Linked DNA regions of Homo sapiens. The protein of the gene in region 3 interacts with the protein of the main gene of each other region in a pairwise test. Each region holds a gene or a part of one and is shown on either strand. Other genes may lie near its edges. The genes, in order: RORC, CLOCK, BMAL2 and NPAS2.

Region 1 (7,025 bases), on a different chromosome or scaffold from region 3:
GACCAACATGGTGAAACCCCGTCTCTACTAAAAATACAAAAATTAGCCAGGCGTGGTGGTGGGTGCCTGTAGTCCCAGCTACTCGAGAGGCTGAGGCAGGAGAATCGCTTGAACCTGGGAGGTGGAGGTTGCAGTGAGCCGAGATTGTGCCATCGTACTCCCGCCCAGGCGACAGTGTGAGACTCTGTCTCAAAAAAAAAAAAAAAAAGCCTGGTGCAGGCTCCCTGTCTCCCTTGGCAGCAGCGCTGAGTTCCTGAGTTCCTGAGGCCACCCCGCCTCCGCACACCCCCCTACCTCTATCTCCTTCCTTCCCCGGCCTGGCAGTCGGCCCCACCCCCTCCCATCTCCCTGCCTCTGTCCAGCATTTCTCCTCGCCTTTTTTCACAAGGCGGTTCCCTTTTCCTTTGTTCTCTCCTGGTTTCTTTACAGTGTTTCCTTTCATGCTTCAGGCTTCTTCCTCATCTCCTCCCACTGCCCTGATCTGTGGTTTCCTCGCACCTCCCCTTGCTTTCCTGTTGCCTGCCATCTCTTCCTGACTCCTCCACCTCTGTCCAACCTCAGTCCCCCCACAGATCACTTGCTGAATTATTCTCCATCTCATTATGCCCCAGCCATTTTCTTGCCCCGGACCCCCTACTCACAGGTGTGGGTCTTCTTTGCAGCCAGCAGCTCTGTAAAGACAAGAGAGGGGGTTGACGTCAAAGGTTGAAGATCATGAGGGGCTGAGACACTTTCCCCACTCCTAGGATCCCACTGCCGCACTCCTTCCCTCAGAGCCTGGCGTCTGAAGGGCAGGCAGGCCACCCCCTGCAGTGCCCCTCTCTCCTCCTCTGCCCTTGGGCCACACTGGCCCTCTTCCAGGTACCCAGAAGTGTCAGGCTCCTCACTGCCTCTGGGACTCCCCCAAGCTGCTCCTTTGCCTAGAATGCCTGTCCCTCCTGTACCCCTTAATCTAGCCAACTTCTCTTTCTCCCTCAGGTCTCTGATTATGTTTCTTCCTTGGAGAAGCCACACACACCCCCTTCCCCTGCCCTTGTGCTGACACATTTAGCTCCTTGCATTTTATTTCCTGGCACTCACCATGTCACCAACTGTCACCTAACTGCTGTAATTGTGTCATTGTCTATGAAATGGGTCTTTCCTGCCAAATTGTAAAGCCCTGTGAAGGCAGGGACTGTGTTGGTCTTATTTACTTTGTAATTTCATTGGAGGTGCACAAGAAATATCCTACAGCCAGAGTTAAATCTCTGTGGGACTGAAATCTCTTGGTTGCTTATCTATGCCTGAAAACACCAGGGCTTCAGAGATGTGGGGGTTGGGAGTAGGGGGAGAGGATGTTTGGAGGAAGAGGAGGGGAGAGTTGCAAATACAGACCCCTCTCTGGCTTCCACGGGCCAGGCTTCCCTGGCCTACCAGCCTGAAGAGGAAGGCCTCCCTTCTCTGCTGCTGCTGCGTGGCCGGGTCTGGGTGGAGATTGGGCAGTAGGGAGCATGAGTGGGTCGATGGGGGTCACATGGATACTCGGACCTCCAGGGGGAGCAGCCGTTGAGGGGAGGGCCTTAGCTGGAGCATGGTTGGTGGGTGGGGGGGTGTCACCCATTCATGCAGTTAACATCTATGAAACACCTAGCCAGGGAGCCCCTGGAAAGAGGATTCCCCTGCCAGACCTTGGCCCATTTCCTACATCCACATAGCAGCTCATCACAGAACACATGGCCAGTCTTTTGTCTCAGAAAGCCCTTCAACCATGCCCTATACCCCCTATAGCTTCCCTAACCTCTGACTCTATTCTGTTATTTTTTTCCTTCTGCTGTTCAGTCTTGACACCTGACATACACACACACACACACACACACACACACACACACACACACAGTGCCCTTCTGCCCGGGAGATGCTCCCCACTGGCAGGCCGTGGTCACTAGGCTGTGTGGAGGCGAGTGGCCTGATGGCCTGGGCTCTGCTGGGGTGAGGGAGGAGAAAAGACTGCCCCGAGGTGGCAAGGCCCCACCCAGCCCCGCCCACCTCCCCTTGCTCCTGCCTGGCCCCACCCAGCTTCCTCCCTGACGTGGCACCGGCTCCTGGCCTCTAGCCTTGCACCTCAGAGCAGTCCTGTGGTGGGGGTGCTCCCCTTGCTCACCCAGGCAGCCAGTTCTTCCTCCACCAGGTGGCCCTGGAGCTTGGTGGCTCTGGCCCTCAAACTTTCCTCCTCCATGCTCACAGCTGACCAAGCCTGTGGCCCTGCGATCCTGCTCTGAGGGGGTTCCTGACTTGGACCATGGGTGGGGCCAAGGACGGCCTGACATTCTGTCCTTCCCTGCTGATGGCCCAGTGCCCCACATTCTCTGCAGAGATGAAATCCCACATCCCTGGGTGAGTGGCGAGGAAAGGACCAGGCTACGTGGTCATGGGCAGCTGACAGGGTGTGGTTCCCCCTGCCACACTCCCCAAGTCTGTCACTCCTTAAAGGACAGGTTTCTCCACTGGTGAATGAACAGAAGGTGGAGCAGCCAGCCTCCCGGCCACTGCTGTCTGGGGTCCTGGCCAGATCAAGGAAGCAGTGTCCCTGTGCCTCCTGGGGGGTAAGCCCACACCTGGGAGGGCCTGTCCACATTCTGACCCCTCGCTGGGTCTAGATCTGGCTCCCCTGACTTGGCTCTTCCCTCCCCATCTACCCTCCAACCTGTTTCTTCCTTCTCCCGCTTCTCCCTTTCTTTCCTGTTTCTCTCCTTTTGCGATTTCTTCTCCTCTGTCATCTCCCCAGCCCCTCCTCCTGTTTCTCCTCCAGTTTCACTCCCTGCCAACCCAGGGCTTTCTCCTCTGCACTCTTGTCCCTCCCTCCCCTCCTCACTTCTTGCCCAGTCTCTTGCCATTTCTGCCCTCCTCTGAACCTCCAGCAGTCTCTTCCACCTGCAGGCAGGGCCATGGGCCTCTTACCCCGTGAGGCTCGGTGCTGTCTCTGTGGGGCCCTGTCCATGGGGCAGCTCCCTTGGTGCCGTCCTGGCTGCCCTGGCTGCCCAGGAGGGCAGGGAGCAGGGCCCAGGGGAGGGAGGAGGGCGGAGGGTGGAAGGCGGGAGCACCTGGCCCTCCAGCAGGCAGGGAAAAGGAGTGGCTGGCAGAGTGTCCTGGCACCAGGAGGGGACATGAGGAGAGACCAGTGGACCAGTGCATGGAGCCTTGAGGAGAAACAGGACAGGAGAAAGGAAGGGAACTAGCATTTATTAATCACTTACTGTGTGCTGGGCCCTTTGCAGGACACTTTATGTAAATCCATGCTTTTACTTTGTGTAAATATTCACAGCACCCACCACAGGGAAACATTATTATTCCAGATTGATCAGTGAGTGGAGGGATTCTCAGAGATATTAATGATTTTGCCCAAGGACTCACACAAGAACAATAAATGGGTGAGCTATGATTTGGACCCAAGTCTTTGTGACTTTAGAATCCTGTGATTTCTACCTAAGACAGGTGACAGGCATAGGGGAGATGGAGAGGGCAGGTTTGGGGGACTGTGTCTCTTCTCTAGGATGCAGTCAGACTCCTCCCAGTGACTGTTCAGTTCCCTGAGGCCTCTGCCTGCTCGGCCCCTGCCCCTAACCCTTGCTGCTCTTGCCAGGACTCCCTGACCCCCTGATGCTTCTACGTGCTCCTCATCTGTTGGGGCAAGGGGCAGGCCTGGAGGAGTGCCTGGAGGCAGAGAAGCCATGGTGGGGAAGAGGAGAGGAGAGATGCTGCACTGGACTCATTGGGAGAAGGAGAGGCTCCCAGACCTAGTGGCCCACACTGAGGCCTGCAGTGAAGGCTCTGAAGGGGGCCAAGAGGACGAGGCTTCTGGGGATCCTGGTGCTGCTTTTCTCCTGCATGGCCTGGGCCCAGAGTTTGATTAGCTGGGCCTGACTCTCCTGGTTACCCAACAAGCAACTGGCCAGGGGCCAGGCTGCAGCAAGAGGCTCCCTGGCACCTCCTCCTGCTCTCGTTCCCAGCTGGTAAACAGCAGAGCAGGAGTCAGCCATGCCACAGCCTCGTGACTCGCCCACTCCCCCCCACCTGGTGCACGTGGCACCTGGCATGGAGAGGGCAAGCAGCTGTCCCTTCCCTCTTCTGCCGTCTCGTCTCGCCATCCTCCACTCCTGCCCAACCCTGGAGCTTCACACTCTGCTACCATCAGCACCTCTGTTCTTAGGTAGCTCCCAGAGTCTCCCCATGGCTGCAGATTGAGAGATAAAGGTAGAAGTGGAGAAGGACTTTTCAACTCCTAGGGTCATTGACAGTGGATGAGTAGTGAGAAAGAGGAGGGGAAGTTTTGGGGACCTTCTGCACTGAGTCTAAGGGTATGTGCCTATGCCTCTGAGGCTCTGATTATCCCCCGTGTTCTTTTGGTAAATGTGGGCCCACGCATCCATGTATGCATCTCTGCACAGAACAGGATGTTGGTCTGTTTGGGGGCTCTGCACCTTGGGCAGGTTTGGAGTGAGAGGTAAAGTGCTTTGCAGCTCCCTTCCCCCCCGCCCCCCCAGCACCCTCCAGCTGACAGGAGGAGCCAGCAACATGCCGGGCGTGGGAGTGCAGGGGAGATGCCGTTCTGCTCCCCTCCTCCCCAGAACTCCTCAGTTATCCCCCATCTCTCTGTCTCTCTTTGCTGGCTCCTGCCTGTCTGTGGCTCTTCTCCAGCTGTCCCCTCTCTATCTTTTCTCCTTTTTAGGCCTCTCTTCCTCTTGACTCTGGGTCTCCCAGGGGCCCTTCGTGACTACCTCTTCTACAACCCACCAATTGCAGGCACAGAGTGGAGGTCACGTAGAATGCTTGCGGATGGACACAGAGCATCCCCAGACACTGCAGGCACAGCTGACTCCCCAGTTGTGCCACTTTGTGCTACTATGTAGGGTGGGGAGGAAGTGACTGGAGATTTAGAAGACAGTATCCTGACCTCTAGGCCTAGGAGTGTCACATGCTTCCTAGGCATTCTCTACCTCTCCCCTGCCCTAAGCATGGATAGTTTGAGTTTTTTTTCTCCCCAGGGCAAGAAGATCCCTTGGTTATCCTTATGGGAAGTTCCCCCTCTTGTCTAAACTTTCTCCCTCTTGCTGCAATCACAGCCCCTTATCTGGAAGAATCGTCCTTTCAAAGCAGGGCGGTGGTTATTTCCTCTTCAAATACAATCTTATATAAGGAAGGGGCTGATAGGGATCAGAGAATCATTTCATCCCCACGTGCCCAGTCCCCTTATTGGGGAAATCTCCATGCTGGGGGCAAACACTCTGGAAGGGATGGGAGGTGGTGGTGGTGGCTTGGAACTGGGGAGCAGTCCCCAGCATCTCTTTCCTTCCTTCCCCAACCCTAAACCACAGAAACCACTTAAAGCTCAGCACAAATCTGCCCTTTCAGGGAGGGCCTGGGGGTCAAGGTGGAAAATATGTGGAGCCTGGGTAGTCTGCGGTGGCACACACTTCCCCAGCCCCATCCTTGGAGGGCCCTCTCCTTGGGATGCCTGATCCAGTGATTAGGGACCACTTTTCTTTGGGTTCTAGGGGGTTCCATGCCTGGGGACGCCTCAACCCACTGGAGTGACTCAGGGATGGGTTGTGCCTCAACCGTTGAAAAAGGACAGCCCAGGCTCTGTAACCTTCGGTAGCCTCCAGATCTCACAGTCCCCACCCCTCCCCCTTCTTGTCACAAAGGCCACTGTGGGTGGAGGAACAGTGGGAGTTTGACCCTAGCTCCTGGCCTTGAACTTTCCACAGTGACCCTGCTTGTACCTCTCCTCTACCAATTAACATTTATAGTCACACAGGCTTGGAGGTGGCAAGAAGGGTTTAAATGCTGGGGCAGAATCACTTATAAGAATGTGGTCTGCCATTTACTAGCTGTAGGCCCTGAGGGAAATCTCAGCCCTCAGCTACCACATCAGTAAAAATGGGGCAATAATACCTGTCCTAACTAGTGGATTTTTTTGTTTTGTTTTGTTTTTGAGACAAGGTCTCACTTTGTCACCCAGGCTGGAGTGCAGTGGCGTGATCTCAGCTTACTGCAGGCTTGACCTCCTGGGTTCAAGAGGTCCTCCTGCTTCAGCCCCCCAAGTAGTTGGGACTACAAGTGCATGCCACCACATGCAACTAATTTTTGCATTTTTTGTAGAGATGGGGTTTCACCATGTTGCCCAGGCTGGTCTCAAACTCCTGAGCTCAGGTAATCTGCCCGCCTCAGCCTCCCACATTTATCCACTTATCAAAGTGTTAGGATTACAGTCATGAGCCACCACACCTGGCCTCTGACTAGTGTTTATAGAAGTGCTTTGGGGCCAGAGCAATCTGCACACTGGAGGGTTTCTTAGGACCTCCTCACTCCCATGTTTCTGTACTTTAGCTACCCAGGATGTTCCTCCAGCAATGCTAGGGCCCCCATCACAGAGCCTCAGGGCTGTGAATGCTGAGTGAACTGCTCCTGGGAGGAGTGGCCTTGGATTTCCTCACAGCTTCCCCTAAGCAGTTGGGGTGGCAGTGGGGGTGTCTGGGTGGAGTCAGGTCAGAACCTTTCCCTCCAGCCAGGGCTGTTCCCCAGGCAAGCTTACTTAACCTATCTATCTGATCCATTTCTTTCTTTGTAAAGTGGGAATAATAATACCTACTCTCCTGAGTGGTTGTGACGCGGTGGCTTACGCCTGTAATCCCAGCACTTTGGGAGGCCGAGGTGGGTGGATCATGAGACCGAGACCGAGATCATGAGACCAAATCAGGAGATCGAGACCATCCTGGCTAACACGGTGAAACCCCGTCTCTACTAAAAATACAAAAAACCAGCGGGTGTGGTGGCACGCGCCTGTAGTGGCAGCTACTCGGGAGGCTGAGGCAGGAGAATCACTTGAACCTGGGAGGTGGAGATTGCAGTGAGACGAGATCGCACCACCGCACTCCAGCCTGGGCAACAGAGTGAGACTCCGTCCCCCCACCCCAAAAAAGAGGAATACTAATATCTACTCTACTGAGTGGTTGTGATGATCAACTGAGATAACACAGATAAAGTTC
Region 2 (7,030 bases), on a different chromosome or scaffold from region 3:
TTTGAGGCAGGAGGATTGCTTGAGCCTAGAAGCTTGCAACCAGCCTGGGCAACATAGTGAGACCCCATTTCTATAAAAAATTAAAAATTAGCCAGGCATGGTGGCTCACACCTGTAGTCTTGCGTACTTGGGAGGCTGAGGCAGGGGGCTCACTTGAGCCCAGGAGTTCAATGCCACAGTGAGCAGTGATCATGCCACTGCACTCCAGCCTGGGTGACAAATCAAGACCCTGTCTCAAAAAAAAGAAGAAAGTAAGGACCCAAAGGTGTAGATGCTAAAGGAATAAGGAACAGTGATGTGGCCCGGGTCCTAGAGAAAATAGGAAAGACTATAAATGGTAGAGATGGAAGGATTAGCTTTAGAATGTGAAGCAAAACTTTCCTTTGAAAGTGAGTAAAGAATGAAAAGGATGAGTAGCTAAAAATAGGGAAACATTAAGTTGTTTGCACCAGAAAATCTATTTTTTCTATTAAAGACAAAGTGAGATCCTCTCCTGAAGGTGCTCTACTTTTATGAACTAAATGTCATTGACGACTTCTGTTGGGGAAAATAATGGTTGTAAACTTACACAACTTTTATGATCTTACTTTATGTGGTATATCAATCATTGTTTTATATCAGAAATATGTGATTTTTAAAATCTCTTTTATTTCAGCAAAAAATCAGTTAGAATTCTGTTGTCACATGCTGCGAGGAACAATAGACCCAAAGGAGCCATCTACCTATGAATATGTAAAATTTATAGGAAATTTCAAATCTTTAAACAGTGGTGAGTTAAAATGCTTCTCTCACAATGTGTTTTAACTTGTTATTTTTCTGTGCTCTTAAAGACATAGATGTTTGAATATCAGTGACAATTAGGTTTTGCTGGCATAACTGATGATACATATTTCCCTATTGTTTTAGTATCCTCTTCAGCACACAATGGTTTTGAAGGAACTATACAACGCACACATAGGCCATCTTATGAAGATAGAGTTTGTTTTGTAGCTACTGTCAGGTTAGCTACACCTCAGTTCATCAAGGTATGTTTTTAATTTTATTTCCCAAAGGGGATTTCAGTTCATATGCTGAGAGCTGCCTGAAACTTCCTGCAGACATTGAGGTGGAATGGCTATGAGTCATTAAATATGCATGATAATATTTTTGAAACGATGAGTTATCAAGACACTCATTAAATTGTATAACTAATTTTTTAGTATATATCCTTTGCAGTTAACCAGTGATTATTATATATCAATATTGCCCTACTTTTGTGGAAGATTTTAGGATCCTTTTGTGTGTTGTTCATTATCTCTATTAAAAGGGAAAGTCCAAAAATCTAGGTTTTTGGAATCTTTATTTTTAGAAGGTAACTTTTAAATTTTTATTTGAAATGTACAAGTGGCTCTTTGCCACATATAACTTACCTTTTCAAATGTAAAATTAGGTATTTTATTTTTATTTCCTGGACCCAACAAACAGATGACAAGTAGGGAAGTGGGAAAGTGAAAGAGTTAACCACTAGAAACTGACTGGAAAGAGGCAGCCAGGCTAAGATTTAAAATTTCGGCGGGGCCAGGCGAGGTGACTCATGCCTGTAATCCCAGCACTTTGGGAGAGCAAGGCGAGAGGATTGCCTGAGCCCAGTAGTTTGAGACCAGCCTGGGCAACGTGACAAGACCCCATCTCTACAAAAAATACAAAAAATTAGCCAGGCATGGTGTTACACACCTGTGGTCTCAGTTACTCAGGAGGCTGAGGCAGGAGGATCATTTGAGCCCAGGAGGTCGAGGCTGCAGTGAACTGTGTTTGCATTTTATTTTGAGACAGAGTCTGACTCTGTCTCAAATAAATTTGGGGGGACATCATAGTATAGGACAAAGTACTGAATTAATAGAAGATCTTAAGCCAGTCTTGCTTGGTTTGTTTTGATCTTATGAAATAATAGTTGTTAACATTTGAGTGCTTACTACATGCTGTGTATTTTATATGCATTATCTCATTAATTCTTATGACAACCCTATAAGTTAGATGCCATTACGATCCCTCATTTTACATTATAAGGAAACAGGCTTAGGGAAGTTAAGTGACTTGCCCAAAGTCTCAGCTATTAGTGATGAAACTGGGACTTGATTCTATTAATTAATAATTGTTTTTTTCTCAAAGCCCAAGCTCTCAACTATTACAGAGTGCTGCAGGTCATTCAGGGACACAGAGGCAGGATGGAATACATTGTTTAGTATGACTAGAGTCTAGGGTTAGTGTGTGGAGGGGGAAGAGATAGTGGGAGGTAAGGCTAGAAAAGTAATCAGAAACCAGAAATAAAATTTGTTTCTTTCTTGTTTATTTCTCCATGCTGAAGAGAGTTTAGCACAAGGAACCACTGAAGGTTTTTTAGCAGGGAAGTCATATAATATTTGAGTATTGGTAAGGTAATTGTGGCCCTAGAAGAGAAGATGAGTTGAAGGACAGGGAGACTGGTGAACACTGTAGCAAATCAGTGATGGCAGGGGTCTAAACCAATGCACTCAAGATGGATGAGATAGAATTGATTTTTAAAATACTTAGATGAAATGGAAAAGATTTAGTAATGGCCACTTAGATGATGAAAGGTAAAAATGAAAGAGTATGTTTTTTTAACTATCAGATTTCTAGACACTGGCCACTACACATGTATAGAATAATACGGAAAATTGTGTGATTGGGTGTGAGGAGTAAAGCAGTTAGTTTATTTTAGGACATATTGAATTTGAGATGTATGAGGACATTCAGATATTTGGAAATATGGAACTGTAATTCAGGAGAGAGGTCTGAATTTTGAATAAGCGTTTATAGGCATGTGTGAATGGAAAATGTGTAGAGTGAGAAGTACCCACCCAAAAGCTTGCATCTAAAGGTTATTTATTACCACATTCTTTAGTACTGGAAAATTAAAATATATTAACTTGTTTAGAAGGGCCTGCATTTTGGCTTATGCCTAGAATCCCAGCACTTTGGGAGGCTGTGGTGGGCAGGTTGCTTGAGCCCAGGAGTTGAAGACCAGCCTAGACAACATAGACCCCCCACCTCTACAAATAAAAATACAAAAATTAGCCGGGCGTGGTGGTGCATCCCTATAGTCCCAGCTACTTGGGAAGCTGAGGCAGGAGGATCGCTTGAGCCTAGGATGTTGAGGCTGCAGTGAACTGAGATCACACCACTGTACTTCAGGCTGAGTGACAGAGTGAGACCCTGTGTCAAACAAAGAAATAGGTAAATATATACATACATAGAAACAACTAACTTGTTTAGGAAAAGTTTATCTAGTAATGACTATTTATTTATGTATTTATTTAACCTCCACCTCCTGGGTTCAAGTGATCCTGCTGCCTCAGCCTGCCGAATAGCTGGGATTACAGGTGCCCGCCACCGTGCCCTGCTATTTTTTGTATTTTTAGTAGAAATCGGGTTTCACCATGTTGGCCAGGCTGGTCTCAAACTCCTGACCTAAGTGATTTGCCCACCTCAGCCTCCCAAAGTGCTGGGATTACAGGTGTGAGCCACTGCACCTGGCCATGACTTATTTTTATATGTAGCAATATTTAATATTCTTAAGGACACAAAGTATTTATAAATTTTAATTATTTATTTGTAGGAAATGTGCACTGTTGAAGAACCCAATGAAGAGTTTACATCTAGACATAGTTTAGAATGGAAGTTTCTGTTTCTAGATCACAGGTAATTCCATTTTTAAATTCCATGAAAAGGTAATAGTCATGTTATATAATTCTTGAAATTAATGGATCAAGGGCAAACTTTTTTTTAAATTAGGACTTTGAAACCTGTTCCCATTTTTTGAAAAATAAAGCCCCCCCCCCAAAGTTTATTTCTAGTTGAAATATTTCTTATTATGGAAAAACTTATAATAATGATTGTTTTCTGTGTAATTTAGGGCACCACCCATAATAGGGTATTTGCCATTTGAAGTTCTGGGAACATCAGGCTATGATTACTATCATGTGGATGACCTAGAAAATTTGGCAAAATGTCATGAGCACTGTAAGTAGATTTTAACATTTCTGGTGATAATAACTGTTTTATAAGCAGAAGTCCTGTCCTGAAATGATAGGTAGTAAGACACAGATTTATAATCATTTTCATATTTTTGAAATATGCTAAAAGATTTTGCTTTATGTATATAACCAATGTAGTAGGAATCATAGATCAAGTTTAAACTTGTTCCTATTTTTATAATAAGTAGAATTTTATAATATTGCATCTAATACACCTTGTTCTGAAGCACGTGAGCTCTATATCTGGAGTAAGAGAAGTAGATTCCTTTGAAAATTGTAATACTTCAAACTTTTGGAGTATTGTTTCCTAAATTTTGATTTTGAGGCATGTGAATCTTTTCAGGAGCTAGGTACATGTCTGGAAAATCTGTCTTAGAAAGCTCATAGTAAGTGCTTGGTGTTATCTGCTTATTATTGTTGTTAGAGCAGGAGCATTATCATCCTTTGTGCCAGGCACTGTTCTAAACACTTTACATCTATTATCTTCATTATTCTCCATCACAGTTCTAAAAGGTAGATGCTATTATTATCTTCATGAGTAAGCTGAGAACACAGTAAGGCTAAGTAATTCACCCATAATTTCATAGCTCATTGGTGGCAGAGACAGGATTGGAGCCTAGGCCTACTCTTTTTATCACATGTATTTATTTTAGAAGTTTGTTTTAATGATGAGGTTTGCCTTAATGATATGTTTTATTTGCTTCTCTGATCCTCCTCCCAGATGCTTACCATCTTGAGTGTTCACTAAAGCTTAACTAGATATTTTAGACCTTTTCATGACGTTTTATGCTGCTGTTATAAACCTCACTGTATGAAAATGAAGCAGGTTGTATAATAGCATTAACTCTATGGAAAATTTTCAGAGTAAAGTCATTTCAGCACAAAAGATGTGGGCATTAAGCACCATGATGTTGTCTAAAGAGCTGATACCTCTATTAACTAGCTGGGTAACTTTGGACAGCAAGTTTGTTTGTAGACCTTGATTTCCTCCTTAGAGAGTGAGAGGCGGTGGCGGCGGGGTTGGGGGGTGGGGGGACAGATTGAGAGATTCTTGACTAGCATTTTCTAAGGTTTGTTCCACCGAATGTTGGTCCATAAAAAAAGACTTTATAGTCAAGGAAGATGGGGAAACACTTCATAATCCCTCAGAGAATCTGCACATGCATTAGCATACTCTAGGTTTTGAGAAAACTGAAGACACCTATTTAACAAAAAGTTTCCCAAATTAATTTAACTACAAACCCTTTTTTTTTTTTTTTTTTTTTTTTTGGGATGGAGTCCTGCTTTGTCACCCAGGCTGGAGTGCAGTGGCGTGTCTCAGCTCACTGCAGCCTCCACCTCCCGGGTTCAAGTGATTCTCTTGCCTCAGCCTCGTGAGTAGCTGGGATTACAGGCACGTACCACCATGCCTGGCTAATTTTTGTATTTTCAGTAGAGATGGGGTTTCACTATGTGAGCCAGGGTGGTCTCAAACTCCTGACCTCAAGTGATCCTCCCACCTCTGCTTCCTAAAGTACTGAGATTACAGGCGTGAGCCACCACACCTGGCCCAAAACCCATTTTTTTGTTTAATATCTGTTAAAACGCTTCAGAACTTAAAATCCACAGCACATGTTTTGGCAGTTACTGCACTCAGTTACTTCAGACTCAGTTACTTTGATTTTGGTTAGTTAAGGTTTAAAATTAAATGCTTCAAAGATTCTGTGCCTGCCAGAGTAGTTAGGAGAAAAAACTCAGGGGTGATTATTTATTGTTATTACCCTCTGTATATCTAGGCAGGAGGAAGTCAGCAGTGTGAATTCTTAAGTATTAATTGTGTATGGAAAGATTGTAAGATCAGCAGTGACTAGCTGTGAATTGGGCACTGTAGATCTGATAATTGCTTGGGACCTTAAACTAGCTCTAAAGAATAACATTTTCATATTGACATATATGTTATCAAAAGGCCAGAAAAATAATAGTATGTGTAAACTTAAATGTAAATGATAGCTTTTGGTTAAAAAACAATCTTTATATAATATGAATTAAAGAAAAAATATTTCTCTATTTTCCTTTTAGTAATGCAATATGGGAAAGGCAAATCATGTTATTATAGGTTCCTGACTAAGGGGCAACAGTGGATTTGGCTTCAGACTCATTATTATATCACTTACCATCAGTGGAATTCAAGGCCAGAGTTTATTGTTTGTACTCACACTGTAGTAAGGTAATAATTCTTTTAGAGAATTTCTGAATTACTGTAACATCCTATGATGATTTTGGCATTGTAACTTTTATGCGTAAGTTGTTAAAGAGCTACAAAGTGCTCTTTTCTCAATTGCTGATAGATCCTTTCAATATATTATTAAATTTACTTATAGGCATTATATATAAATATAGGAATGATATAGATATATAAGTCTTGATATAAATTTTGTGCTTTACAGCAGAAGTTGTTACTGTCATTTATGTAGTAATGTCAGTCATGTAAAAGGAAAACTGTAGGTAGATAAGCATACACTTCCTTTATTTATTTTTCTTAATTTAAGTATTGTGTGGTTATGGATCGTTTACAGCAGTGTATGAAACTTTAAGATACCTAGAAAAATGCAAGTTAAATTAAGACATTATAGGTATATTTTAGGTTTGTGTAGCACATAGCAAATAGTCTAGATGAACAGATGAGACACGTAACAACACTGAATAGTTACAGCTGTGCAGTATTTTAAACGAATGACCAGACACTAAAATTTGATTATTTTTTCCATTTGTAGTTATGCAGAAGTTAGGGCTGAAAGACGACGAGAACTTGGCATTGAAGAGTCTCTTCCTGAGACAGCTGCTGACAAAGTATGTTTCTTATAATTAAAAAAAATTATTTTTAATTTCTCCCCAATAAAAGATGAAACTCAATAATTAATAGGAAAACTATTTTTCAAAAATACTTTATTTCCTCACTTATAACGGGGATGTGATTATACTTTACTACTTATTTTTAATTTAATATTTTAGAGTCT
Region 3 (5,981 bases):
CTTTTATCTCTAAATTAATTATCATCTCCATGGTTCCTACTTACTTCCTTTTTCAATAAAAATCTGATTTATCTCCCTTTTATAAGAAAATTCCAAATCTTTAGAAGATGCTTCTGTCTCAGGCTTCTCATTTCAGTATTAAACAGATAGGGTTTTTTCATAAGCAGATTAAATTTTCTCCTTCCAGGGTTTGCGCGTGCACACACACACACACACACACACACACACAAACATACACTAAATTTCCTAGCTTCCTTCCAGCTCTCTGAGAGTCTGTACCCTTTAGCAGTGTAATTTCCTATTAGAAAACTCATAGACTAGCTTACTTCTCTGTAGCAGATGAATTAGGTGCAATTTATCTGACAGAAGATTGTTATAAAACTAGGTAACCCATTTAAAAATACATCAGCCATCTGCAGCTTAAGATATATACTTTGCCTTCAAAAATACATTTTATGGTTTTCTAGCCTTGCTTTGCCATTTTTTATCACAATCATTTTTTAACCTCAAAATGTGTGAAATGTATGACTTTACTGATCACCTTTACTTACACAGGCCTGTATTTTAATTCATAGGTGATGGTGCACAGTTGGATTTCGATGCCCTATGTGACAATGATGACACAGCCATGGCTGCATTTATGAATTACTTAGAAGCAGAGGGGGGCCTGGGAGACCCTGGGGACTTCAGTGACATCCAGTGGACCCTCTAGCCTTTGATTTTTAACTCCAAAAATGAGAAACATTTTAAAGCATTTCATTTACGAAAAACTGTCTCAACTATTCTTAAGTACTGTATTGATATTGTTTGTATCTTTTATTAATGTTCTACCACTTTTTATAGATTTGCATCTTCCTGTCACAGGGATGTGGGGAAATACGTTTTCCTCCCAAGAGAACCAAGTTTATTATAGACTCCTTTATTCAGTGAAATGGCTTATAATCCACTAGTTGCCATATTTTTGCTAAAATATTTCTAACCAAGAATACTACTTACATATTGTTTTGGCTTTGTTTTATTTTTGATGCAGTTTTTTTTAGTTGAGGTAATGTAATATATTGATGTTTTCCTTTGTGTCTAAGATTCATTTATAATAGTAGGTTTGTATAATTTGGAACATTTTCCATTCCTTGCGAATTTCCTTAATTGAGGATAGGGCTTACACACTTTAAGAAAACAGTGAGTACTTGAACATTTAAAGGGACAGTGCAATTTATAGTCATAATCACATTGAATACTGTATTTGATCTTTGGAGACTTAGGCAAGCACAGAGCTGGGATATTTATGCTCAGTTGAGCACTTTAAGATGAATTTTAAGTGAGATGATTTCTTGCTTAAAACTCAGAAAGTCAAAAGAGTTTCAGCTTTCCTTACAGAAAAGGAAGGATCTTGGGCCCTAGATCTTGGGGATTAACCTCTGCATATAAGATTTACTCTTAATAGGCCAGACGTGGTGGCTCACGCCTGTAATCCCAGTACTTTGGGAGGCTGAGACGGGCAGATCACTTGAGGTCAGGAGTTCAAGACCAGCCTGGCCAATATGGTGAAACCCCGTTTCTACTAAAAATACAAAAAAAATTACCCAGGCACTCACTCTTGAGGTAACTAACCAACTCCCACGATAATGACAGTCCATTCATGAGCGCAAAGGCCTCATGACCTAATGGCACACACCTGTAATCCCAACTGCTTGGGAGGCTGAGGCGAGAGGATTGCTTGAACCTGGGAGGCAGAGGTTGCAGTGAGCCGAGATCGCACCACTGCACTCCAGTCTGGGCAACAGAGTGAGACTTCATCTCAAAAAAAGTAAAAAAAAAGATTTAATATAATCACTGAAGATCTCTATTATAGATAGATTAGGTTTTTGACATTGGAAACATACTTAGGGATAGATTTGTCCTAAAGGAAAAAAGTAGGCCCGGGCAGATTAAATGTCTTGTGTAAAGTCACACATTAAATTCAGTCACACATTAAATTCATAGAGTTTTAAATGTTTAATGTATATAAACCAGTTTCTTTATACACATTTGGGAAAACATTGGTCTCACAGATTAAATGATTAACTAACTGACCCAGGAACTAGTTGTAGCTTTCTAAGTAATTAGGCAATTACAGTTATTGCCTGTAACCAAAGGTAATAAAACAAAATGACAAGTACATGTTTAAAATTATGAGGCAATGAGAAATAATTTAAAAACCAATTTTCTAGTTATAATTTAAAATTTGGAGAGCATTTTTAACAGTAATTAATCCAGAGGTGGCTCAAATTGAGTATAAGAATTAAGATTATTTAAAATACTGCATGTCTACCTTCTCGGGGATCATACTTTATAACACTTTCTGCTTCAGTAGCTCTTCATAGCTTGCCAAGTATGCTCCCATATTTTCTCTCTCGTGCCTCGCAAATGAAAGTCAGATAGGCTGGGAACTCATGGGGCAGCCCTCAGACTTCAATGTGGGCTTCAAATCCAGTTTCCTGTTCTATATGGTGCTACATCTTTCCAGAAAATTTCCCTCAGAGCCCCTCGCCAAAACAAAGCATTATTTTGACCCTGCATGCTATTTCTTTAGCTGTAGGTGATAGATTAGAACTTCTGTCAGACATGTTAATGACAAACATACCAACAGACAATAACCAAAAGCAAATGTTTCCTTCAAGTGTGAAATGTGCAGGGGCTTCGTGGGCAAGGATGTATTGGCACACTGTCCTCTTGAACTGATAGTGTCCCAGCAATGTTGGAGGGTTGGCACCATTCCTGGTCCGACACTTGAGGACCTGAGAGACATCAGGTTTAGAATGAGCCAAAGAAATCCTACAAGATGGGGAGAATTGGTGTGCAGCAGCCTAAGTGTTATAGTTAAGTCTAAAGAAGTATGAAAGATCCCCTGTGTTCTCTAAATTGAGCAGAGGGGCCTGCCTACCAATATCACTTTTTAGGGGACTGAACCATTGCAGGTTAGACTTGGCTTCCAAAGAGTCTGCCTAAGCCAGGGGTGGCAGGGTAGGCCATCATAGCTGGATGGCCTCAAAAGCAGATGGGGGCAGACTTGCCCTCGTGATGCCAGGATTTGAGAGGCAGAGTTTCTAGAGGGAGACCAGTGCTGCCTCTCACAGTGGCAGTTTTTTCTCTTTGCAAGAGGAGGGGCTGTTCAATTCCATAGACCAGTGGGCAGATAGCCAGTTGAATACTCTGTGCATGGTTTGATCCTTTATTAGTTCGCTCTAATATTTTTCTGTAGATCCTTTTGTCCTGGACTCAAAATCTAATCCATGCATTGTATGATACCGTAGCTCTCCTAAGGTTTGTGTTTCCTTCAAAATGTTTTAGTTTTCTTCAACTAAATTTGATTTTTGCTGTTAGAAGTGACATATTTTTATGGTATACACTATGTTCCTTTTTTCTACTGCGAGTCAATTTTTTGAATTTTCGTGAGAAAGAATATATCTACAAATTGCACGAAAGTATCATAAAAACAGTACTCTAGACTTTTCTTTTCTTTTCTTTTTTTTTTTTTTTTTTTTTTTGAGATGGAGTCTCGCTCTATCGCCCAGGCTGGAGTGCAGTGGCGCGATCTTGGCTCACTGCCATCTCTGCCTCCTGGGTTCACGCCATTCTGCCTCAGCCTCCAGAGCAGCTGGGACCACAGGCGCCCGCCACCACACCTGGCTAATTTTGCTTTGTATTTTCAGTAGAGACGGGGTTTCACCATGTTAGCCAGGATGGTCTCGATCTCCTGACCTCGTGATCCGCCCACTTCGGCCTCCCAAAGTGCTGGGATTACAGGCATGAGCCACTGCGCCCGGCCTACTCTACACTTTTTTTAACCCTAAGAATTACCACTACAGTAATGTAGTGGAGTGGGAAGAGTGCCTGGAATCAGAAGACCCTGTTGAGGCTGAATTTAGCTGTATGACCTCATGCAAGCCATTTAAACTCTGTGCCTCAGCGTCCTCATTTTTAAAAGGAGGTTTGATCTCTATGTTTACTTCCAGCTCTGATTCTGGGATTCTAATCCACAGGACTTGGGTGTTAGGGTGGAACCTAGAACTGTGCTGTCCAGTGCAGTAGCCACTAGCCACATGTGGCTACTGAGCACTTGCAATGTGGCTAGTACAAAGTGAGATGTGCTATCAATGTAAGATACATACCAGATTTTGAAGACTAGTATTACCAAAAGAATGTAAAATATCACATTAATAATTTTATATTAATTACATGTTCAAATGATATTTTGGATATACTGAATTAAAACATTAAAATTAGTTCTACTTGTATCTTTTTACTTTTTTAATGTGGCTAGAAGAAAATAAAATTATACATGTGGCTCAGATTATATTTCTATTGGACAGCGCTGCTCTAGAACATTATATTAAGTGGTTATTATTGAAGTAGACCAAAGTTTATACCATAAGGATATTTTTCCTTAAATACCATGTTTGAAGAACAATTATTTATTGATCCTTGAATCTGTAAGATCAAATAACAAGTCTCTATCCATGTTACCAAATTTAAACTTTTGAAAATAATAAACTTTAAAATATCAGATGTGTTATTACAGGATGATACTTGGAATCAAGTGAAATGAGTTATATGGTCATCACTAAATTTAGAAATCTATTGTGAAACAAAGACAAACAGGAAAGTACAGAATAGAGACTTTTAGTAAATAAATGGAATTTAAAAGAAAGTGTTTATTTACAGTGTCACGACAGAAAAGGATGTCTTTGTTGTCATAGTCTTTGAGGGATCTCCGTAAAATCTGGGGCACAGGTACAAGAAATAGCCAATATTTAGTTCCCAGACCATGTTTAGTAGTGTCCAGTTTCAGATCATGCTGCCAAGAGGTATCTCCCCCTCAGGTGGGTCATCACTGAGCCCTGGAATTGGAGACTCATACTTGCCCAGCACAATGTTACGGGCAGACAGGCCGACATCTATGATTAGCTAGAAGCCATAAAGAAAAGCTGCTAAGTGGCCACTAGGTGCCACTTTTCTGTTTTTGTAATGCTTTCATTAGCAGATCTTTTTTTTCCAAGCTCCATGGGGCCTATGAGAGGCATTTATGATTTTTGTGCCTACAATAAGTCAGCCTGTCTGGTGTGAGTTGTTTTATGAGAAATGCTTTCCAAGGGAGGTCTAGGAAGATCCTGACACATAAGAACTTTGGCTTAGAGAGCTTTCCAGGTGTAGTGCCAATAAAAACTGACCTGGAAAGAAAACCTGCCCAGCACGGAACATGCTTTCTGAACTCACTTGAGAGTGTATGGTGTATGTCACTTCTCATATATTCTTGAGTTTAGATTTGTCTTTTATACAATTTTTAGCTCTTTTCCAGTTCACTTGTGCTCGTCTGTATATTGGTATTTTTAAATTTTTGTGGTAAATAATGAAAAGAGTGAAATTATATTTTATAATTACTCATTTGTAGTTTTTTTTTTTAATTTAATAAACTTCCTCCAAAAAGTGCTCCCTTAACTACTTTCTAATGTGGAAACATAGATTAAGGAAACCATCCAGTGCCCTCAAACCACTGGGCAGAGGGGTACATTGAACTCTGTTACTATATATATTTCTGGGTATGTTCCCCAGGGTATACTAACTGCTGTAACAACTCCAAAATCTCAGTGGTTTAACCAGTAAAGGTTTCCTTGTGCTCACGTCAGACTCCAACGTCATCAGCCTTATCTGTCCCTCTGACTCTCTCCTCCTCCCTTTCTGCCTCTTCCTCATTCCATCCCTCAGCTTTGCTTTCCTATGAGCTGGTTTTATCTTCCGGTGGACCCTCTCCGCATAATGACACTCAGAAGTTCCAAGCGTATATTGTTCTTATACCTGACAATTTCAGTGGAAAGAGAGCCTCTCTATTTCCTAGTAATTCACATGCACATATGCATTGACTGGGCCTCTGGATCAACTTGGTTTACCTGGACTTTCTGTTGTGTGGTTGCAGTATCTACACTAATTCTAGAGAGTCAACC
Region 4 (7,030 bases), on a different chromosome or scaffold from region 3:
CGTAGTCTGATGACTAACAATTCTATTCGCGTTAGGATATTTGGGATGCCTCAATGCATGCAACAAAGACCAAAGAGCTATGCTGGCTGCCTCATGATGTCCCCAGGAAGTCTACTGATAGGTTGTTTTTGCTTTCAAGGTATCTTTTTCTTGTGTGGTCTGTTGACTCTGAGAAGGTTTTTTCTTTTGTCATCTTGCCTTTTCCTTTCCTATTGGAGGACAGCAGGTGGTGGGTGTTCCTGGGCTATGCACTATCACTTAGGAGTGAGGAAGTAGAAGGATGATCAGAGGTCCATGCCCAAGAGTGGTGCTTTTCAAATGTGCCCTTGCCTGAAGGGTGATTAACATTTCTTATGAGTTTTATCCATTTCATTTGCCTTCCTCTCTTCTCTAGCAGAATTGAAAATGTTTTAAGAGCATTCCCCTGGATAACTGGAACAAGATGAGGATGCCCACTCTCACCACTTCTATTCAACATAGTACTGGAAGTGCTAGTCAGAGTAATCAGGCAACAGAAAGAAAGTAAAGGCATCCAAATAGGAAACGAAGAAGTCAGACTCTCTCTCTTTGCTGCTGATATGATTCTATGGCTAGAAAACCCCGAAAAACTCCACCAAAAGGCCCCTAGAACTGACAAATGACTTCGATAAAGTTTCAGGATACAAAATCAATGTGCAAAAATTAGTAGCATTTCTACATTATTTCACACCAATAACGTCCAAACTGAGAGCCAAATCAAGAACACAGTTCCAAAGTGCTGGGATCAGGCGGGCGGATCACTTGAGGTCAGGAGTTCGAGACCAGCCTGGCCAACATGGCAAAACCTCATCTCTACTAAAAATACAAAAATTAGCCAGGCATGGTGGTGCGTGCCTGTAGTCCCAACTACTCAGGAGGCTGAGGTTGTAGTGAGCTGAGATTGCGCCACTGCAATCCAGCCTGGGCGACAGAATGAGACTCTGTCTCAAAAAAAAAAAAAAAACAACAAAACACACACAGTTCCATTTGCAGCAGCCATTAAAATATAAAATACATAGGAATACAGCTAACCAAAGAGGTGAAAGATCTCTACAATGAGAACTATAAAACACTTCTAAAAGAAAACATAGATGACAGAAACAAATGGAGAAACATTCCATGCTCATGGATTGGAAGAATCAATATTATTAAAATGCTCATACTGCCCAAAGCAATCTACAGATTCAGTGCTATTCCTATCAAACAACCAATGTCATTTTTCACAGAACTAGAAAAAACTCTTCTAAAATTCATAGGGAACCAAAAAAGAGCTTGAATAGCCAAAGGAATCCTAAGCAGAAAGAACGAAGCTGGAGACATCATATTACCCAACTTCTAACTATACTATAAGGCTACAGTAACCAAAACAGCATGGTACTGGTACAAAAACAGGCACATATACCAATGGAATAGAAGAGAGGACTCAGAAATAAAGCCACACACCTGCAGCCATCTGAGCATCAACAAAGTTGACAAAAATAAGCAATGGGGAAAGGACTCTCTCTTCAGTAAATGGGGCTAGGATATTTAGCTAGCCATATGCAGAAGAATGAAACTGGACCCCTACCTTTCACCATATACAAAAATTAACTGAAGATGAATTAAGGATTTAAATGTAAGACTTCAATCATAAGAATCCTAGAGAAAAGCCTAGGAAACATCAGTCTGGACACTGGCCTTGGGAAAGAAAGTCCTCAAAAGCCATTGCAACAAAAACAAAAATTAACAAGTGGGACCTAATTAAACTAAAGAGCTTCTGCACAGAAAAAGAACCTATCAACAGAGTAAACAGACAACCTACATAAATGGGAGAACATATTTACAAACTATTCATTCAACAAAGGTCTAATATCCAGAATCTATAAGGAACTTAAACAACTGAACAAGCAAAAAAAACAAAAACCATATTTAAAAATAGGCAAAATACATGAACAGACACTTCTCAAAAGAAGACATACAAACATGAAAAAAATGCTCCATATCACTAATCATCAGATAAATGCAAATCAAAACCTCAATAAGGTACCATCTCACACCAGCCAGAATGGCTATTACTAAAAAGTCAAAAAACACATGCTGGAGAGACTGTGGAGACAAGAGAACACTAATGCACTGTTGACTGGAATGTAAATTAGTTCAGCCACTGTGGAATGCAGTTTGGAGCTTTCTCAAAGAACTTAAAACAGAGCTACTAATTTGACCCAGCCATCCCACTACTGATAGTAGTATCTATCCAAAAGAAAACAAATCATTTTACCAAAAAGATATATGCATTCACATGTTCATCACAGCACTATTCACAATAGCAATCGTGATTCCATGTCCATGTCTACTGGACATGGAATCAACCTAGATGCCCATCAACAGTGAACTGGATAAAGAAAATGTGTTACATATATACTATGGAATACTATGCAGCCATAAAAAGAATGAAGCCATGTCCTTTACAGCAACGTGGATGCAGCTGGAGGCCATTATCCTAAGTGAATTAATGCAGAAATAGAAAACCAAATACTGCATGTTCTCACTTATAAGTGGTAGCTAAACATTGGGTACTTGTGGACATAAAGATGGCAACAACAGGTACTGAAGACTACTGGAGGGAGCAGGGAGCCAGGGGATAAGGACTGAAAACCTAACTATTGGGTACTACATCAGTACCTGGGTGATAGGATCATTCATACCCCACACCTCAGTATCATGCAATATACCCAGGTAACAAACCTGCACATGTATCCCCTGAATCTAAAATAAAAGTCGAAAAAATTAAAAGAATACAGCAAATTTACTTTTCAGCTGTCTCATGCAATGTACGAAGTGTTTACGTAACTACTGTACATTCAGAGAACTGAATTTAGAACCTGTCTGACTGTAAATCTGATGGATTCTAAAAGCAACAAAGCTTCTTAGAAATGCTTGGGGCAGCCTACCATCTGACTGGATTGAGAAAGGCCTGGAAGGTCATCTCCTCAGGGTTTTCTTGGAAACATATCACTGGAGGGGTGTGTCTCCCAACACCATTTCCAGAAAATCTTTCAGGTTTACTGCAAGGTCGATCATAGCCACTTAATTTTCATAGACAACCTCTATTTCAAATATTTCCCTTTGCGTCTTCATGTACCATCGATACACTCCCAAAACAAGTATAACTATTATGTAGCCAATAAAATTTAATTTAAATTGTTTATGTCATGGAAAAATGCTTATGTTCACGTCAAAACAATCAGAATAGAAAACTATAAATGGTACTACCTCAAACATGTGAAAATGCACAAAAAAGATTTAAAAGCTGGAAAATATCTTGTGTTAGTTAAGATATGGAGACAAGGCGGCCTTACACACTGTAGATGGGGAGGTTAACAGGCATAGCTTTTTTTAGCCCCCAATTTGGCAGCATCTATCAATATTTCAAACAGGTGTGCCTTTACCCAGGCCTAATAATCCCTGACCTAGAAAATCTTGAAATGTACATAAAGATATACAGATAAGGAAGTTAATACAAAAACTGTAACAGTCAACTCAATAGATTATTTATTAATAGGGATGGGTTAAATAACGTCCTATTTGTACTTCTGAATAATACTCTGTAGCCTTTAAAAATAAAGAAAAAGGTATGTCATTAAAAATCCATGCCATATTAAGTTGCTAAATAATATACATAAAATGAGTTCAGTTTTTGTTTTTATTTTTTAGTTTAATTTTATTTTTTTGAGACAAAGTCTTGCTCTGTTGCCAGGCTGGAGTGCAGTGGCAGGATCTTGGCTCACTTCAACCTCCGACTCGCTGGTTCAAGTGATTCTCCTGCCTCAGCCTCCTGAGTAGCCAGGATTACAGACATGTGCCACCATGCCCAGCTAATTTTTATATTTTTAGTAGAGACAGGGTTTCACCATGTTGGCCAGGATTGTCTCGAACTCCTGACCTCGTGATCCGCCCGCCTCGGCCTCCCAAAGTGCTGGGATTACAGGCGTGAGTCAGTGCACCCGGCCTTAGTTTTTAAAAGTGTACATATGTGTGTGTATATGTAAATGCGCCAAAAATGACTAGCAGAACATGCCCCATGGTTATCAGTCATTACCTCCTGAGAAAGGTGGAGAGTTATGGGATGCTTTTGGCTACAACAGAAAAACTAGCTCAGTTTGCTTCATCTGGTAATGGTTTCATGATCTCACACATGTTCAAAAACAGACTCTTCTTTGTGTAATTCAGAAAGTCAAGGGCACCACGGAGACCTCCCCGCCCCCTGCCCTTCTTCACCTTTGCATTCTTCCGCAGGTCAGCTGAGACCTGGCCCAGCCCCTCTGGTGGCTGATGGCTGCCCAGTTTGCAGGCATTATGGCCACATATCACAGTATCTAGTGGAAGGAAAGGACTGTTTCCTTCCTTGTCTCTTTTGAGAGCAGGGAAACTTTCCCAGAAGCCTCCCAGTGGCCCACCCTCACATTTTATTGGCTAGAACAGGGTCCGCATGCTCACCCTGAGCCAGTCACTGGCAAGGGCAGCAGCCCCACCCTCACCAGGGTTGAGTGGCCAATCTGATAAACCTCCAGAGGCAGGTGTGGGTTGGCAGTCTACTGTACAAAATCCAGTTTCTGCTAGGCAAATAAAAGATAGGGCGATGATTATGGGTAGGCCACAAGGATGAAGGGAATTTTTTTTCTTTCTACTAGAAATGGTTCTGTGCTATTTGAAAATTTTTACAAGATTATATCCATGTGCTTTTTAAGATAAACTAATATAAAAATATTTCAATGCATAGAAAAAACACTGAACGGAAAATATATCTTGAAATTGTGGGGTTTTTTCCTTCTTTTCTATCTTTTCCAAAAACTATGTACTTTTATAAACAAAAAACCAATAATTTTCAGATGACCTCGAGCTCTTAATATTTTATCACCAAGGGGCACAAATATCATTCATAAAATTGTGCATGTCATTTTTGGCTCAGAAGAGGCTAGAAGAATCACGCCACTAGGTTCTGTCACCTCGTCACCTGTCTGTCTTTAGATGGGCCTGTGTTTTCTGGAAGCCTGGATGATTTTCAGTGGTCTGGGAACATTATCTGCCACGGCCTTCAGCAAAGCAACAAAGTCCACAAATTGAGTCCTAGGGTCCAACCTCTCAGCTTCAGCCCCCACCACTGCTCCCATTTCCATCCTGGTACTCCCATGCCTGACGATGCCTTCCTTTCCCTCTCTCGTCTCCACCCTCACCCAGGCCTGCCTTGGCTCCAGGGGGTTCCTCTGCTTTTCCTTCCCCCTAAACATCAAACTGCCATTGCCATTCTCTTAGAACTTGGTTTTCAAGATTTACTTTCAGGGAGCGTGGAAGGCAAATGGTAGCAGAGAAATCGCCTTTGCAAATAATAAATGGAATCCCAAAATATATTTTAAAAAATCAGAGTGATGTTGGTTGAAGTGTTTTCAGGGCCACCCAGGTGACCCCTCCTAATATCAGGGTGAAGGACACCATTGCCTTGCAATATCCATCTCTCCTAGATGGCAGGAGGAAGCAATATCTTAGAGTGCAAAGCATAAAAGGCACCCCAGGTGAATTCCAACACGCTCGGCACTAGTTTCAAGTAACTCGTACTATGGTGGAAAGACAGATTGATGGCTTTGATCCTGGAAAGTGACCCACCACAGAATAGACCAATGCCCCTCAAAGAGGAGAGGTGTTTGTCCTCTCCACTACATTTTTAAAGAGCGCTTGATTGCCACTAGCAGTCTTGATCAACAGAACCTACAGCTTAAGTACCAAGAAAAGCTTCAGATGAAAATATCCTAGGAAGGGCTATCAACAAAGCAAACCAGAAGCCAGGGACTGCAGGAGAGGGTGGAGATAAGCATGCTCCCAATAATTTTCCATTTTGCCTCTGATTAGCTTCCACAGCTGCCTGCCCTCCAGCCCTGGCCCGGTTCTCCACGGCCGGCCTTGGGTTTGCTGGTAAACCAAATTGAATCTCTAATTGGTGAACTACATGGAACATATTTTAGTAACCTCTTCGTCCTCCTTGCTTTCCAGCCTCCTCTCTCCTATCAACAGTAATAAAAGCAATCACTTTTGTTAGGCCTAACACGCGTCCTTTACTGGTAATTCTACAAACTTGGCAAGGTAAGCATCATTTGCACTGTTTTTCTGACAAGGACTCTGAGTCTCAGGTTAAAAGTTGCCATAGCTGAGCTGGGAGGCTACCCCAGGTCTGTCTGACTTCAAAATCTGCATTTTATTTCTTGCCAAGTCACAAGGCTCTCCATTCAAATATGACTACAGGTCAAGGTCAGCAATGTGGAAGCCCTACCAGCAACTCTCCTTTCCTGGGCCCCTTTCTGGCCACCACCCCAGAGAATGGCATCCCAGAACCTCATTTTCAGTTTACAATCCCTCTCTCTCTCCCTGCCACCTCACCTTGTTAGCTCCTCAAGGGCAGGTACAACCCATCTTCTCATTTTTTTATCATCTGGGCTCTCTATGTGGTATATGCTCAGTAAACATGCTGAACTGGATTCAGTGCATCCCAAAACCTTGCCAGCGTGCAGCATCTGGTAGCTGTGAGAAATGCAGCTCGGGTCCTCTCCCAGGTGTCCTGAGTTAGAATCTGTGTTTGACAAGGGCCCCAGGTGATTCTCGGGCACTATGATATCCAGCATCCTCCATCTCCTTATACAGTTTTTTTCATACCAGTGTAGAGGATCAACACTCTCCTTTCTATTCTGAACCATCAAATGGAACCACCCATTGTTTTAAGACTTGCAAAAGTTCAAGTGGTCTCTGGGGGAACTTTACCTAAGAAATGACTTTGCTTAAAATGCCAAGGACTCCTTAATCTCAGTTAAAGAATTCAAGTGAGAAGCAGTTGTGCCTTAAAGACTGCATTAAAAACTCCCCCTTTAAACATACGCTCATATTTAATACATGTTTATTTAGTGCCCTGAGATACTATTAATCATCATCACCTTGAGATTTAAAATAGAATTACTCATAGTTAAGTACCCCATTAGCATTCAGAAAT

What was found.
Region 1: the proteins of BMAL2 (region 3) and RORC interact in a two-hybrid assay, tested with the Homo sapiens proteins (one study listed by BioGRID and IntAct).
Region 2: the proteins of BMAL2 (region 3) and CLOCK interact in binary tests that used the Homo sapiens proteins (3 or more experiments, as listed by UniProt).
Region 4: the proteins of BMAL2 (region 3) and NPAS2 interact in binary tests that used the Homo sapiens proteins (3 or more experiments, as listed by UniProt).

What each region holds. Positions count from the first base shown.
Region 1 is NC_000001.11:151,828,788-151,835,812, forward strand, and holds the start of RORC (nuclear receptor ROR-gamma), read right to left. Parts: upstream 3,016-7,025; 5' UTR 2,978-3,015; coding exon 2,938-2,977; intron 2,346-2,937; exon of another isoform or gene 2,343-2,345; coding exon of another isoform or gene 2,141-2,342; intron 672-2,140; coding exon 642-671; intron 1-641. UniProt on the Homo sapiens protein: Nuclear receptor that binds DNA as a monomer to ROR response elements (RORE) containing a single core motif half-site 5'-AGGTCA-3' preceded by a short A-T-rich sequence.
Region 2 is NC_000004.12:55,452,887-55,459,916, reverse strand, and holds part of CLOCK (circadian locomoter output cycles protein kaput), read left to right. Parts: intron 1-655; coding exon 656-769; intron 770-906; coding exon 907-1,025; intron 1,026-3,616; coding exon 3,617-3,699; intron 3,700-3,913; coding exon 3,914-4,020; intron 4,021-6,092; coding exon 6,093-6,240; intron 6,241-6,519; exon of another isoform or gene 6,520-6,787; coding exon 6,788-6,863; exon of another isoform or gene 6,864-7,030. UniProt on the Homo sapiens protein: Transcriptional activator which forms a core component of the circadian clock.
Region 3 is NC_000012.12:27,419,821-27,425,801, forward strand, and holds the end of BMAL2 (basic helix-loop-helix ARNT-like protein 2), read left to right. Parts: intron 1-575; coding exon 576-712; 3' UTR 713-5,466; downstream 5,467-5,981. UniProt on the Homo sapiens protein: Transcriptional activator which forms a core component of the circadian clock.
Region 4 is NC_000002.12:100,823,139-100,830,168, reverse strand, and holds part of NPAS2 (neuronal PAS domain-containing protein 2), read right to left. Parts: intron 1-7,030. UniProt on the Homo sapiens protein: Transcriptional activator which forms a core component of the circadian clock.